Linked DNA regions of Homo sapiens: region 2 is linked to region 1. Evidence: fine-mapped expression QTL. Tissue or cell type: skeletal muscle. Region 1 holds a variant in brackets; the other region holds the start of a gene. All regions are shown on one strand. Distances are from middle to middle.

The links. PIP is the estimated chance that this variant, and not a neighbour inherited with it, causes the effect.
Region 2: it holds the start of SULT1C4, and the variant in region 1 is the best candidate, but not a certain one, in a credible set for the expression of SULT1C4 in skeletal muscle (GTEx, PIP 0.64).

The regions. Positions count from the first base shown.
Region 1 is chr2:108,306,893-108,315,078 of GRCh38, forward strand. SULT1C2 (sulfotransferase family 1C member 2) reads left to right here. Exons shown (of 8, transcript NM_001056.4): 8 at 1,460-3,023. The coding sequence ends at 1,572. Among named protein-coding and RNA genes, the nearest start is that of SULT1C2, 22 kb to the left of the region's middle. The variant C/G (reference allele first, on the strand shown) is at 4,734.
Region 2 is chr2:108,374,278-108,382,463 of GRCh38, forward strand. SULT1C4 (sulfotransferase family 1C member 4) reads left to right here and starts at 3,677. Exons shown (of 7, transcript NM_006588.4): 1 at 3,677-4,229; 2 at 7,485-7,610; 3 at 8,108-8,186. The coding sequence starts at 4,061.

The sequences.
Region 1 (8,186 bases):
AGACTGTCTCAATAAATAAATAAATAAATAAAATCAGTATAAAATTATATTTTTTAAAAGTCTCTCCACAAAAACTCCACCCCCAAGAAGTAACTACCAACAGTATGGAAGTCCCTTTCTCTCTCATTTATAACATACAGATTTTTTATTCACAACAGTGAAATCATGGTATACACACTGCTTTGAAACATCTTTTCTTCTTCCTCTTTGATTTTGCATGTGCTTGAATTTATGTTGTTGCATTTTCCAATCTACAACAGTATTCCATACCAATGAAACAAACCAAAATATTCTACCCCTTTTCTCTTTGGATAACCAGTGGTAATGATTTGTCAAGGTGCCCTTCTTCAGGCTCATACATAACCATCTTTCTATACACCCTCCTTCTTCAGACTCACACAGACACAAAGATATGTAACCATAATGAAAGCTTGCTCCCTAAAATGCAGAATGGGGTCATATTTTATACCTTTACTTACCAGGATATGAGAAACCCCTCTAGGGCAAGGCATATAGACTCATACACCTCATTGATTTCTTTGGTCCCATGTTATACCAAGCGAAGGATGCATCATAATTCATCCAACTATTCCCTTAATGATAGACACTATAGTTATTATTGTTTTCAATGTTTGTTTTTATGCATAATGTTACAGTAAATATCTTTGTGCATAAATTATTTCCAGATGCTTTTATTTCTGTTGCATAATTTTCTGGAAGAGGTATTGGTGGGGAAAAGAGAATTTCCCCTGTTTAAAATTAGTTTAAGTTGTTGTTTGGTGAAAAATATTATCTCATTCATATTTTTCCAAAATAGTTTTTTATTGAGATATAATCAAAATACCAAAAATGCACAGATCTTAAGTATACAGTTCAACCCATTTTAATAAATGTATATACCCACACCACCCGCACCCCAATCAAGATATGAAACATTTTCATTACCCCAGAAAGTTCCCTCTTGTGCCCTTTTCAGTCAATGTCTACCTCCAGGGACAACCGTTTTTCCAATTTCTATTACTCTAGATTGATTTTGCCTGTTGCTGGACTTCACGTAAATGGAATTTCACAGTATTTACTTTCCTGTGTCTCGTGTCTTTTGCTCAACATAATGTTTTGAGATTCCTCCATGTGGTTGTGTGTCTGTAGTTCATCATTCTTTTATGTCTATGTAGTAATCCATCAGGTAAATACACTACAGGTGGGGCCAGGTCATGCAGGCCACTAGCTGCCTTGGGTCAGTTGTCCAGCTGACTTAGAAGTCCATCCCCCTGCACAGAGTCCCCTAGGCCTGCTTCTTATAGGAGAGCTGCTCATGGACAGGTGTCCACTGAAGGGGGAGTTGGGTGAGTCAGGTATGTGGACAGGCCAGATTCAGTATGGGCACTACACCACTTTACTCAGGGACACCACATCTTTCAATCAGAGTGACACTCCTGTCTGGCCTTCCTTTTTCTAGGAACTGTGGGGGATTGGAAAAACCACTTCACTGTTGCCCAGAATGAGAGGTTTGATGAAATCTATAGAAGAAAGATGGAAGGAACCTCCATAAACTTCTGCATGGAACTCTGAGCAAGATGTAAATAAAATTAAAAGGTGGATGGCAAGAGTGCAAATACTATCTTCAATCCTTCAGTCCCAGCCAGAAGAATCTCTGAAAGCATATTGTGAATGTATACAATGTAGTACAAACAATCTCTGTGATGATTAACAGTATGTCACCACTTCATTTTTTAAAAAGGATCACGTCTAATGCCCATTTTCCCAACTATTCTTTCCAAAGTAAGATATAAGGTAGCTTAATAAACTAAGTAAAACGTATGACTTGAGTACAAAAGGATTGTTTTAATCCCCATTATTCTGGAAAGTGCATCCTAGTCTCCCAGTCTATAACATCATAATACCTTGAGTATAAGTCCAAATATTAGGTTATATCTATATTAAAAACAAAATTTCTGTCATCTGTCCTGGCCATTCAGGCAACTCCAGCCTGGGCTCAATCCTGGAGTTCTGTCTGGTCACTATCAGAAGGAACACTTTGAGGGAAACCCTGGTGCAGCCAGCCCTGAGGAAACATGGCCTGAGTGCCCTCACTGGTGGGTGGGAATAAAATGGAAGTGCACAGAGGAGATGTCAGAAGACCAAAACTTGGTGAATAGTCCCAGTGCTAGGTCATATAGGAAACAGAAAGCATGACAGTGGCCTTTTGGGAACCCAAGTTACGTCCTGGTGAAAGCAGAAAGGAGGAGACAGGATGGCTGTCAACAACGTCAGCATGGGCATGGCTCCCAGGCATGGAGGTAATTGGGTCTTGGCTTCAATGCCACCCTTTTGGGAAGCCCTAAACCAAGTGAGGTGTTCTTTTCCCTTGCTTCCCATATTTGTCCCAGTTGCAGCCCTGTTGTTATGTATTTACTCTTCAATTTCTTATTTATACCTCTCACTCAATTGTTAATTCTTTGGGTTCAGTCTCATGCCATATTTACTCCTAGTACCTAATGCAGTGCCTGGCACACAGCAAGTGCCCTTGAGAACTTGTAGAGGGAGTAAAAAAGTGCATGGATAAATGACTGCAGCAAATCACAAATTTTGAACTTTGACCCTTTTCTTTTAGTCCCAAATAGTGGCATTCCATAGCTGAGGGTAGTAGGAGCAGTTCACCCTGGGAGCAGACAATAAGAGGAAGAATGAAGCCAACTAAAATTCTGAATGCTTTTTGTTGGATTTCGTAGGGTATTTTTTTTAAAATAGGGTCTTGCTATGTTGCCCAGGCTGGTCTTAACTGACTGCTTTTTATTATTACCATGCACTGGCAATTCCAAACAATGTCAGTGTTAAAATGCTTCTCCCTGAAAAAGAGAAAAAAAAAAGGAAAAAAAGAAAAGAAAAGTGAAAAGAAAAACTCTTATTGGCCTAAGTTCTAAATAATAGCTAGGTTACCACTGAGTTTTAACTATATGTATATGAGCTTCAAATAAGCACCTTTTTATTATGTAAATAAATAAAAGTTATCTGTATCCCCACTGCATTGTAAAATTTTTGTTGTTTTGTTTCATGTCTTATTCACCTTTGTATGGAAATTAATTCAGAAACCCCAAGCATAGAGTCTACCTCTTTAATTCCAGCAGGCAGATGTAGTTCTGCCTGCTTCCTTCCAAGGTTAAGTTCATAACAGTTCAGAATCTTGCAAGCTCACTTCAGGTATAACCTGTGTCTCCAACCCTGCAGTATTTGGATATTGCTGTTTAAACAGTAGATTTGGCATAGATGATGGTGGCACAATGGTTGTAAAGGAAAAGAAGCAGAACACCTCAGTTTGTTCAATTCTCTCATTGGGGTTTTCAGTTGTATCCAGAATTTAAAACAGTAAAATTTAAGAGTGTGAACAGCAACATTCACACTTTGTTTAGTAAGTACAAAGTTGTGCTCATACAGGAAGTTTACTGACTTTGAATAATAACTTTAAAAACAAAATTTACTCTTTTCTAAGTGTTAATTATTTGTTTTAAAATTTAAGAATGAATCAAGAAATAAAACATTACACCAGTGGTATGATTTAGTAATTGTCTGACTTATACTTTTTGTAGACATTTTAGTTTTATTTAAATTGGCATTCTGATTTTTTTACTGGTCTTGAGTCTATACACAAAAGTTGAATAAAAGAAAAGTTTCACTGACTACATTTCTTTACTATTATTATTACTTGTCTCTATTCATGATCAACACTGAAAATAATTTTGTTGTATACGGAAGTAATGTTGATATGGTTAGGCTGTGTCCCCACCCAAATTTCATCTTGAATTGTAGCTCCTATAATTCCCTCATGTTGTGGGAGGGACCCCGTGGGAGATCATTGAATCATTGAGGTGGTTTTCCCCATACTGTTCTCATGGTAGTGAATAAGATGTGATGATTTTATAAGGGGTTTCCTCTTTCACTTGGCTCTCATTATCTCTTGTCTGTCACCAGGTAAGACATGCCTTTTCACCTTCTGCCATGAATATGAGGCCTCCTCAGCCACATGGAACTGTAAGTCCATTAAACCTCTTTTTCTTTATAATTTACCCAGTCTTGGGTATGTCTTTATCAGCAGTGTGAAAATAGACTAATAAAGTAAACTGATACTGGTAGAGTGGGGTGCTGCCATAAAGATACCCAAAAATGTGGAAGTTGCTTTGGAACCTGGTAACAGGCAGAGGTTGGAACAGTTTGGAGGGCTCAGAAGAAGACAGGAAAATGTGGGAAAGTTTGGGACTTCCCAGAGACTTGTTGAATGGCTTTGACCAAAGTGCTTATAATAATATGGACAATGAAATCCATGCTGAGGTGGTCTCAGATGGAGATGAGGAACTTGTTGGGAACTGGAGTAAAGGTGACCCTTGCTATGTTTTAGGAAAGAGAATGGTGTCATTTTTTCCACGCCCTAGAGATTTGTGGAACTTTGAACTTGAGGGAGATGATTTAGGGTATCTAGTGAAATAAATTTCTAAGCAGGAAAGCATTCAAGAGGTGACTTGGGTGCTGTTAAGAGCATTCCATTTTAAAAGGAAAACACAGCATAAAAGTTCAGAAAATTTGCAGCCTGACAATTCACTAGAAAAGAAAAACCCATTTTCTAGGGAGAATTTCAAACCAGCTACAGAAATTTGCGTAAATAACAAGGAGCCAAATCTTAATCACCAAGACAATGGGGAAAATATCTCCAGGCCATGTCAGAGACCTTCATGGCAGCC[C/G]CTCCCATCATAGGCCCAGAGGCCTAGGAGGAAAAGATGGTTCCATGGGCTGGGCCCAGGGCCTTCCCTGCTGTGTGCACCCTAGGGACTTGGTGTCCTGTATCTCAGCCACTCCGGCCATGGCTGAAAGAGGCCAACGTAGAGCTCAGGCCATGGCTTCAGAGGGTGCAAGCCCCAAGCCTTGGCAGCTTCCATGTGGCATTGAGCCTGCAGGTGCATGGAAGTCAATAACTGAGGTTTGGGAACCTCCACCTAGATTTCAGAGGATGTATGGAAATGCCTGGATGTCCAGGCAGAAGTTTGCTGCAGGGGAGGGCTCCTCATGGAGAACCACCTCTAGGCCAGTGCAGAAGAGAAATGTGGGGTTGAAGCCCCCACAAAGAGTCCCCACTGGGACACTGCCTAGTGGAACCATGAGAAGAGGGCCACCATCCTCCAGACCCTAGAATGGTAGGTCCACCGACAGCTTGCACAGTGCACCTGGAAAAACCACAGGAACTCAATGTCAGCCTGTGAAAGCAGCCTGGAGGGAGGCTGTACCCTGCAAAGCCAAAGGGGCAGAGCTGCCCAAGACCACGGGAACCCACCTCTTGCATCAGAGTGACCTGGATGTGAACATGTAGTCAAAGGAGACCATTTTGGAGCTTTAAGATTTGACTGCCCCACTGGATTTCAGACTTGCATGCAGCCTATAGCCCCTTTGTTTTAGCCAATTTCTCCAATTTGGAATGGCTATATTTACCCAATGCCTGTACCCCTACTGTAGCTAGGAAGTAACTAACTTGCTTTTGATTTTAAGGCTCATGGGTGAAAGGTACTTGCCTTGTCTCAGATGAGGCTTTGGACTATGGACTTTTGAGTTAATGCTGAAATGAGTTAAGACTTTGGGGAACTGTTGGGAAGGCATGATTGGTTTTGAAATGTGAGGACATGAGATATGGGAGGGGGCAGGGGAGGAATGATATGGTTTGGCTGTGTCCTCACATAAATCTCACCTTGAATTGTAGCTCCCATAATTCCCACGTGTTGGGGGGAGGGGACTGGTGGGAGATAATTGAATCATGGTGCAGTTCCCCCATACCATTCTCTTGGTAGTGAATATGCCTCATGAGATCTGATGATTTTATTAGGGGTTTCCCCTTTCAATTGGCTCTCATTTTCTCTTGTCTGCTGCCACGTAAGACATGCCTTTCACCTTCCACCATGCTTGTGAATCCTCCCGCCTCAGTTTCCCAAAGCACTGGGATTACAGGCATGAGCCACTGTGCCTGGTCTTTTTCATTTTAATTGCAGACACAGTTCTTTAGTACTTGCATGCTTGTGAGGCCTCCAAAGCCATGTGGAAATGTAAGTCCATTGAACTCTTTTCTTTATAATTTACCCAGTCTTGGGTATGTCTTTATCAGCAGCATGAAAATGGACTAATATAAAGATAGTTAAAAAAAAAAAAAAACATTCACTCCAGGGTCAGCTATGATCCCAAATGATAAAATGAGTTCTGACTTTTAATTGGTTGGTTGGTTGGTGGGTTGGTGGTTGGTTGGTTGATTGGTTGGTCCTGTTAAAGAAAAAATTATTCAATGACACTTATTAAAGCACAGTAGGGCAGATTTTAGTCAGGACCATCTCCATAGGTGTAGGGACCATGGCAATGGAGTCTGGCAGTGGAAGAGATTGTGTTCGACTCTTAATATAACGTGGGCAAGTGGGAATTTATAGCCATGCAGAAGGGTGGAGAAGGAGGGATAGAAAATCCCTAAGAGGAAACATCATCGGTAAGGAAAGGGATGGGTTCTGGCTACAGTGATCCAACAGGATTCTTGCTAAAGATAGGCCAGGGTGATTAGATATTACCTGGGTGGTGGTGGAGGATGAAGAACCTGATCAGATGTTGGGGGTAGGGAGTTCCTGCTATATTGACTTAATAGTTTTCTTGCAAAAACTGGATTTTTCAAAGAATTACACAGAGGGGTATAGGAGATATGTTAAGAACCTTACTAAAGTTTGGTCAAGAAAATAATCTTTGTCATTTGGTTTAAACTCTTTCTGCTTCCTTTTCTTCACTAGCTAGGACCTAAACATGCCGACTTTGAGGTTTAGTATTTCAAAGAGCTTTGAAGTTTAATGCTGTGAGATTACATGGGACTGTGAGTTTTTCAAACACCCACAAATCACATTTAAATTCAGGCTTCCAACAACCAGTAGAAACTACATGGCAACTGGAACACGTTAGAATCAGGGTCAAGAATGAAAAGCCACCATGATGGTAAAGCACAGTGTTTTGCAACTCGACCAGTTGTCCACAACTCAAGCAAGGAGGGACCAATCTAACAAGAACAGAGATGCAAGAAATAGAACTAGCCCCAGGAAATTCAGTATTCAAGCTAAGATGCAAAGAGCCCTAGCACACCCTCTCCCCACATATACCTGCACCATAAGTATGTACCAACAGCTAAAAAGAAATGATTTTATGTTTCTTTCCTCTTAAGAGTTACAGCCATTCTTCATTCAGTCATTCATTCATTCTCAATAGTACACGTACTATGTGCCAGGTACTGTGTGAATGATGGGGATACAGTGGTGAGCAAAGCCCTTCCCCTATGGATTTCATGGTCTAGCATGTGAAGCAAAAGTCCACTAAGTCGTGACACATGTCACCAACCGAGGAGAGTGCCATGTGAGATGGTTTCAGGCTTCGAGAGGCCAGAGCAGATCAGCTGAGACTGGGGCCTGAGGCACAGCTTTCCTGAGAGGACATGGTCCTTCCTAGGTGTGAAGCATGTGCTGGCTTTAACTAGGCAAGAGACTGGGCAGAGAGAAGGAGACCCAGGAGCAGGCTTGGTGAGGCGGGCCTGTCTCAGGGCAAGAAGGAAGGGCTATGAGGGGAAGAGCTACAAGCTCAGGGAGAACTGACAAAATGGGGCCCCAAAGAGAGCCGGGCATGTCACATGGGGCCTTGATGGTCATGGCAGAATGTTAGACTTTATCCTAGGAGCATCAGGAAGCCCCTGCAGGCTCCAAGATAGATGGTGAAACACTCAGACTACCATGTCAATATGTCTACTGTGTCTGTGCCATACACACAGCACAAGGGTGGGAGCCACACTGTTCCAGTTGAGAGGGCTGGGAATTGTTCATGGGTGTGGAGACTTCCAGGGTTAAGGGTTAAGGGAACCTCCTCCCTCAGCCTCTCACACCTGGTTACAAAAGCAGGAAGTAGAATTTCAGGTTGACCAGCAGGATACTCACTCCTTATTAAAAAAAAAAAAAAATTTAAGACAAAGTCTCACTCTGTTGCCCAGGCTGGAGTGTAGTGTCACAATCGTGGCTCACTGCAGCCTCAACCTCCTAGGTTCAAGCAATCCTCCCAGCTCAGCATCCTGAGTTGCTAGCACCACAGATGTGTACCATCATACCTGGCTAATTTTTATTTCTTACTCTTTGTAGAGACGG
Region 2 (8,186 bases), 67 kb after region 1:
CCTGGAGTTTTTCTGTTTTGGAGTTAGACTTGGCCAGAACTGCTCCCCTACTTATGGTTGACAGATGCAATACAGGATGCCCACTCACATTTGTATTTCAAATAAACAACCAGTGATTTATTTTGAAGAATAAGTATATTCCAAATATTGCACAGAAAATGCATGTACTAAAAATTAATTCACTGTTTATCTAAAATTCAAATTTAACTGGGCATCCTGTATCTATATTTGCTACAGCTGGAAGCTCTACATGACCCAGCATTTGACACAGCTTTTCATTTTTCTGAGAATGTAAGGGGTTCTTAGGTTATGTTTTAAGGAATTGTCTGAAATTATAGATTGCCTACATCCTTGCTTCATCTCACTAAGTGCTTACAGTTACCTCCAACCTCTGAAGCTGATTAAAGTATTATAGCAAAGAGTAATATAATTCATTTGAGTTTCATTTTCTCCCTACTCAGCTCCTGGAATAGTGTACTGCAAACAGAATGGCCTTAAGGCCATCTAAATAGAGGAAGGGGGAAAAGAAGTTATGAATAAACCATATTTATCAATATCTGAACAATCTGGATTTGATTCCAGTTTTAATTATGTGGACTTGTTAGTTCTTCCTCTTGCTTCGGTTTCAAGTATTGAACAACAAATAAGTCATTTACAATACCTCTAAGCTAAATATTGATTCAAAGAACAAAGACCATTACAATTCAACTTTTTCAACACAGGCTTAGCTCACTCTCCAATGGGTATCTTTTTTTTTTTTGAGACCGAGTCTCGCTCTGTCACCCAGGCTGGAGTGCAGTGGTGCAGTCTCAGCTCACTGCAAACTCCACCTCCAGGGTTCAAGTGATTCTCCTGCCTCAACCTCCTGAGTAGTTGGGATTCCAGGCATGCACCATCACGCCTGGCTAATTTTTCTATTTTTAGTAGAGTCAGGGTTTCGCCATGTTGGCCTGGCTAGTCTCAAACTCCTGACCTCAGGTGATCTGCCCACCCTGGCCTCCCAAATGCTAGGATTACAGGCATGAGCCATCGCGCCTGGCCGGGTGTGTTTTAAAACAGTGTGCCGAGTCAAAACGTCTTTTAGACATATTCCTTTTTTTTAATTTTATTTATTTATTTTTTTTTTTGAGATGGAGTCTCACTCTGTTGCCCAGGCTGGAATGCAGTGGTGCGATCTTGGCTCACTGCAAGTTCCGCCTCCTGGGTTCATGCCATTCTCCTGCCTCAGCCTCCCGACTAGCTGGGACTACAGGCACCTGCCACCATATCCGGCTAATTTTTTGTATTTTTAGTAGAGACGGGGTTTCACCGTGTTAGCCAGGATGGTCTCAATCTCCTGACCTCGTGATCCACCTGCCTCGGCCTCCCAAAGTGCTGGGATTACAGGCATGAGCCACCATGCCCTGCCTACATATTCCTTTCGTAAAAAGCAAACAAACAGAGACCTGTTTAAGGGTAGTAACCAGCATGCTGGATTTTACTAACAAAAAAAGAGTTTGGAAACCCCAGTTACAAATTTTGCAAATGAATCACATTTGAGGCCTGAACAAGTTAGTAGTTTGCAAAAAGGACATCTAAAGCGCGTTAAGAGTTGGAATCTCCTCTCCATGCTCAGAAGCAAACAGTGACAGAGTTGAAAGGGAGGTTCAGGGAAGAATTAGAGGGGGAGAGTATATTAGCTTTATCTTGGGTACCCAATATATCCCAAGATTATAGGATACCTTATTTACATCCAACATTACATTAACCCTGTGAGATTAATAAAAAACGAAAGGCTCAGAAGAGATAAGTATTAGAAAAGTTACACAGCTATTAGGGGGCAGTTTAAATTCAAACCCATATATTTAGAATTCCAAAGCAATGCTTGTCAAATATAGACTTAGCACCAACTTTATTCTTATAATCACTAAATATATTTATTTAATTCTCCTAACCTCATGAGAAAGTACTATTGAGTAAAAACATTAAGTGAGAATAAGAGCAGTGTTTGTAGTCAAGATCACTTTTCAAATTATTTGGAACTTCCCATCTTCCCTGGATCTATTTTCAATCCCAGTCAGTCATCTTTGGGTCCAGAAGCATATCCTCCCCCATCTCCCAGCCCTCCCCCTCTAGCACACAACGCACTGGAGAAAACTGCTAAGGCATTGCTGAATATCTACCACTCTACTCTGATGGCACACAGGGCCAAAAAGATTATAGAATAAAATCTAACTGAAAAATTATAGGTGATTTTTATAAGTCTGTTTAAATGCATATGCATCCCAGGCATTCCACCTGGCAGTCTCTGTCTCAAGGGCCCATCCACCTCACCATGGTCTGGAGGGAGGGGATGAGGAATAGGGAAAGCCAAAGAATTGATCTTTTCTGAGTTTGCATCCAGAACATGGGCCACAGAGAAATGGTGAACAAAGTCACCCATTATTATTAACAGCTATGATTTATTCAACATTTCCCTGTTGCCAAGCATTAAATAAGCTGTTTTATCTCCCCACAACCATGAGGTAGATAATGTTAAGATCCCCAATTCAGACCTGAGGAAAAGCGTGATATGAAACAGAGAAAGATTCTGTAACCTGCCATTGCCCACAGCTACTGGGACTTGGCACAGGGTTCAAATACAGGCAGCCTGACTTCTCTCTGAAGGATGTCAAGCCACAGCCACCATACTCACCTAGTCCCCACATAATGATGGCCCAAGGAACTCGCTTCCTCAATTTTTGCTTAGTTTTACTCATTCATTCTTTCGAGAAATAGAAGAATGCCAGACACTAGGCATACAGCTATCAAACAGTGAGAAAACAACAGGCCCCATTTCATGTGCCTTAGAGTGTAGTGAAGGAGACAGAAAATGCCAACAAGTAAACACGCAAAAACTAACTGTCAATGGTTGCTCTAAAGGAACACAAAGTGCCATGAGCAAGGAAATAGGAGGGACCTACTTGAGATGACATAGAAAGTCAAAGAAGGCTTCTCCAGAAAGGGGGCATCAAAGCTGGGACACGAAGAAAGAGAATCAGACAGCCAGACACACAAGAGCCGACAAGATCTCCAGAAGGAGTGCTGCCATGGGGAGCAAGTGTGGCATGGCCCTGGGGTGCAGGCCAGGCCGGGGGCAGGGACTGAAGCAAGTTGTGAAATTTCTGATTATCAGGGGCAGAATGGATTCCTAAGGCAGCCACTGTCTTCTGTTAACTCTGGAGTTTTCTGCATCCCTTTTGCTTTAAATGAGGCATACATGTTTTCATAGCTGTGATGAAACCCCTACAATTCTCCAGTTTAGCATTATTTATTTTACTCTTAAAAAATAACAAAGCTGACCCTGGCAGATGTTTGTACTGGGAGATTCAGATCCATCCAGGCCCCCACTGTTAATAGCCCACGGGAAAGTCCCTGCAGTCTCTCAGGGAAGTCATTCTGTGTAGAATCTGTAATTTCACAGGCAAGTCCTGCAACTTTTTAATTGTTTAAAATTCCCAGAAGGAATAATTACTGAAATTATCTATGAAGGGTTTAATGGACACAGACATGAGAGCTATAAACAATGTGATACTATGTCCTGTTAACTCACAGAGAACGGAAGGGCTGGAACGGGACCCAGCCAGCAGGGTTTGTGACCGCCTCTGCTGTGACGTCACAGCCTGGTGAGGAGGGGGCTGCAGTTCCTCAGGAAACTGCCAGTGGACAAATTCATAAACAAGAGCTCCAGTTCCCTGGAACCTGAGTCGGGAGACCTGCAGCTCACTTTCTCCCTGTTTGCTGGCCAGCAGGGTTTGTGGCCGCCTCTGCTGTGACGCCACAGCCTGGTGAGGAGGGGGCTGCAGTTCCTCAGGAAACTGCCAGTGGACAAAGTCATAAACAAGAGTTCCAGTTCCCTGGAACCTGAGTCGGGAGGCCTGCAACTCACTTTCTCCCTGTTTGCTGGCCCAGACAGGCCTGTGCTAGAGGGCTGGATAGTGTGGTAGTGTGGTGGATAGAGTGCTGCCTCTATCCACAACGCAGCCATATGCTGACTGAAGATAACTTTGTGTCTGGAAGAGCCCTCTGATTTCTTACACTAATGGCCTTACACGACATGGAGGATTTTACATTTGATGGAACAAAGCGCTTAAGTGTCAACTACGTGAAGGGAATTCTTCAACCGACAGACACCTGTGACATCTGGGATAAGATCTGGAACTTCCAAGCCAAGCCTGATGACCTGCTTATTTCTACCTATCCTAAAGCAGGTAGGTGGAAGGGCTTGCAGGGGAAGGGGAAGAGGAGAGTTAGGAAGGTAAGTGGAAGTATGCATTAGTCATGAAATAAAGAAGTTGATCTGGAAAACTCTGGACAGAGTGATATGGCTAAGGAAAGTTACTAGTGGAAACTGAAGCTATACCGAAACATACTAAAATGACATACAAATTTTTAGAATTCAATCTTCCTATGATACTATGATGTACTTCCTTTTTTTTTTTTTTTCACTTTCCCAGGAGAGAGTGAAAACAGTTAAGAGCAAAAGGGTAGACTTGTTTATTTATTCATTCCCAATCTAGGCCCTTATTGTAGATCTTGTAAAAAGCTGCTTTGAGTGTGTGAGCTAGAAAGGTGATCCTGAGTCTGATTTGGGAAAGAAATAGGGGAGCTTTGGTTCTGCAATGCTGATATCACCTCAGCAGCCCTCCCATCTCAGGGTCTGAGAACCATCCTTCTGATTTCCACCTTCCTTTGTGGTAAGTTTTGAACCAACTGCCTTATCTCAACAATCAGTTTAACAAAGTTGTCTGTAAAAGTAGGACTAGCTTAAGCCGAGCCACCACGTCATAAAAATTGGGTGATGATGAGGTGGAAATAGTTCTCTATAAATATTTTTGCATATCTACATATCTACTAGAAATACATTACTGGGTCCACACACAAATTGTATATACATTTGCTCTTTGCAAAATCAAGCTGTCAAAAACTCTTGTTATACACACACAAACACACACACATCAAAAAATCTAAACCTCAGTATTTTCTGAGACTGTTCAAAATCCTCTTTTGTTCTTATCTCTCAAGATCCTGACAGAAGATTCTGCAGGCACATGGAGGCCTTGGTCTCTTCTTTGTCCATCTGTTTCATTTTGGTCCTGATTTCCCAATCTTACTCATCAGGAGCCCATTCAGGATCAAATTTTTCTGAATGTAAATTTCTAAAAGTAGCCACTGGTGAGGATCACATCTCATCATCTTAATTTCATTGACAATTCCACTTGATTATCAATTCAATACATAAATAATCTTTTCTCTATCTGCCAAACGCAAGTACAAAGATATGGTTCATTTAGGTTTTTCATGGCATTAATGAGGTTTAAGCAATTCAAAAAGCACACTAAGAAAATTAAATACTTGCCATCTAAAGTAATATTTAATCATAACTAAAACCATATACATTAATGAAGGCTATTTTATTAGAAGGAAGAAGAAACAAGCATAGATGGCAAAAATAGTTCACCCTAAATTTTTAAAAGAATAATACTCTGAATGACACAAGAAAAAAATACATCATAGAATCACTGGCCTCTAGAGAATAAATTGAGAAGTCATTCCACTCACCCCGGAGCCTCTAGCAACATTTGAATCTGCCCTCATGTTGGCTCATGTCTATAAATTCATTCAATTCATTCATTATAGACATTCAGTGTTATGGCTATAAATTCCCATAAAACTAGTACAAATGGCTGGACTATTCTTTGCATGGATAGCTAAAGATATCTTGGCCCTTTGTCCTGTAATAAAAGTTGCTGCCAGAAAATACAGGAGACCAACTACTATAAAATATAAAATGTAATTTAATTTTTTTCTAACCTATGCCCTTATTCTAGGCCTTTAAAAGCACTAAATTGAGAATATGGGAAAAGGAATCTATAGAGTTTCGGCCAGATAATACAGGAAAGATCAACCTAGATCAGGATTCAGAAAGCCATCCTGGCTAGGCATGGTGGCTCACACCTGTAATCCCATCACTTTGGGAGGCCAAGACAGGGGGATCTTTTGAGGCTAGAAGATTGAGACCAGCCTGGGCAACATAGGGAGACTCCTATGTACAAAAAAAAAATAAAAATTAGCCAGGCATGGTGGTGTGCACTCACAGTCCTAGCTATTTGGGAGGTTGAAGCAAGAGGACCATTGAGCCCAGGAGTTGGAGGCTGCACTGAGCTAGGATCCCACCACTGTACTCCAGCCTGGGCAACAGAGCAAGACCCTGTCTCTGGAAAAATAAAAAATAAAAAAAGCCATCCTAAAATAACTCAACATCCTCCTAACCTGGATTTTGCCAGAACATCTGGTGCAACAGATCTTCATCAAAGGGTGAAGATTATGTTGATAGCACAATATCACTGTATCAGTCAGGATCAGTGCAAGACACAGACAGACTGAAGCTGGGGGATACCATTCTACCTATGGCCACAGTGGCAGTGGTTGGGTCTAGGGCACTGGGCCATGGAACGTGGAATGGTCTCTGCAAAATTTCTATCTGCTGGGGCTACTATCAGCAGCCACCACCTCAGGAAGGATGACTTCTATCTCCCCACTGCCTTCCAAAACTCAGGCTAATGCATCTCACTGGAGGGATCTAAATAGCCTTCAGAATCTTAGTGGCAAAGGAGTTTAGGGAAGGCCTTTTACAGCCTTTCAGCCCATGAGATATGGGGGAAACAGAGAAAGGCGAAAAATTGAATACTAAGTGCTAATGGTCAATATCAAGTTCAAGCCCTAATGGTTCACTCATTCAGCCAACAAATACTAAGTGTCTCCTACGCTATGCAACTGGGAAAAAGAGAGTTTGAAAATCATGTAGTCATTTCTCTATAGCAGATCACAATTTGGGGAGAATGTCCTTTCTAAGGACAATACAGCTAAATAAATAGAACAATAATAACAATCCAAATTAATAGTTGTGACAGAAAAAAATAAATGTATATTTATCAGTCTAATGTCCATTCAAAATTGGAGTATTTTTTTAAAATCATATTATGATAATAAGATATAAATAAGGAATGCTATCTTCTGAATCCCATTTAAAACCTAGCTTTTAAATTCACATAGATGGTCCAGGCATGGTGGCTCACACCTATAATCCCAGCATTTTAGGAGGCCGAGGCGAGCAGATCACTTGCAAGCAGATCACTTGAGCTCAGGAGTTCCAGATCAGCCTGGGCAACATGGTAAAATGCCGTCTCTACAAAAAGTATAAAAATTAGCCAGGGGTGATTGTGTATGCATGTAACCCCTGCTACTCAGGAGGCTGAGGCGAGAGGATCGCTTGAACCCAGGAGGCAGTGAGCCAAGATTGCACCATTGAACTCCAGCCTTGATACAGAGCAAGACCCTGTCTCAAAAAACAAAACAAAACAAAACAAAACAAAAGACATAGATGTTCTAACAAGTATTTGATCATATTTTAAGGAATGTACTATACTAGATGTCTATTCATCTTCATTTTACGTGCACGTAAGGAACAACATGGACTCAGGAGATAGTGGAATTAATACAAAATGAAGGTGATGTGGAGAAAAGTAAACGGGCACCGACTCATCAACGATTTCCTTTCCTCGAAATGAAAATCCCATCCTTAGGATCTGGTGAGTATAAATAGCCACACTTCACTACAGTCCTAAAATGCACTTAGGATTTTTACTGTCTTTGCACCTTTCGAAATTATAGGCTTTCAAACAATTATTGGTAAGTTTCATGGTTTTGTCTTTTTTTAACTGTGTCTGGCCATTGTTATACTCCAGACATTTTCTAATGGAATTACTGTTTGTACAAAAGTGAGTTAAATTTTGTTTCTCTAGTTAGAAATTAATTTTACTTCAAAAGAATAAGCTCAAGTAAGATAATCCTGGTGAAAGGGTTTGAATTTTTTAGGTTCTTATTTATTTGGATGACTGTTATGGTTAGGAATTGTTCTAGTCAAAACATCTATTCATAGGCTAGACGTATTCTCTCACACCAGATCTACAGTTACAATGTTCTTATAGATGCTTTGAATTGTAGTAGTAATAATGGAAGCAGCAAGACTTGGAAGCAAATAGATAAAAAAAAAATCGTAGAAATTGATCGAAAACCAGTTTTGCAGGTTTGGAACAAGCTCATGCAATGCCCTCACCACGGATCCTGAAAACACATCTTCCCTTTCACTTGCTGCCACCATCCTT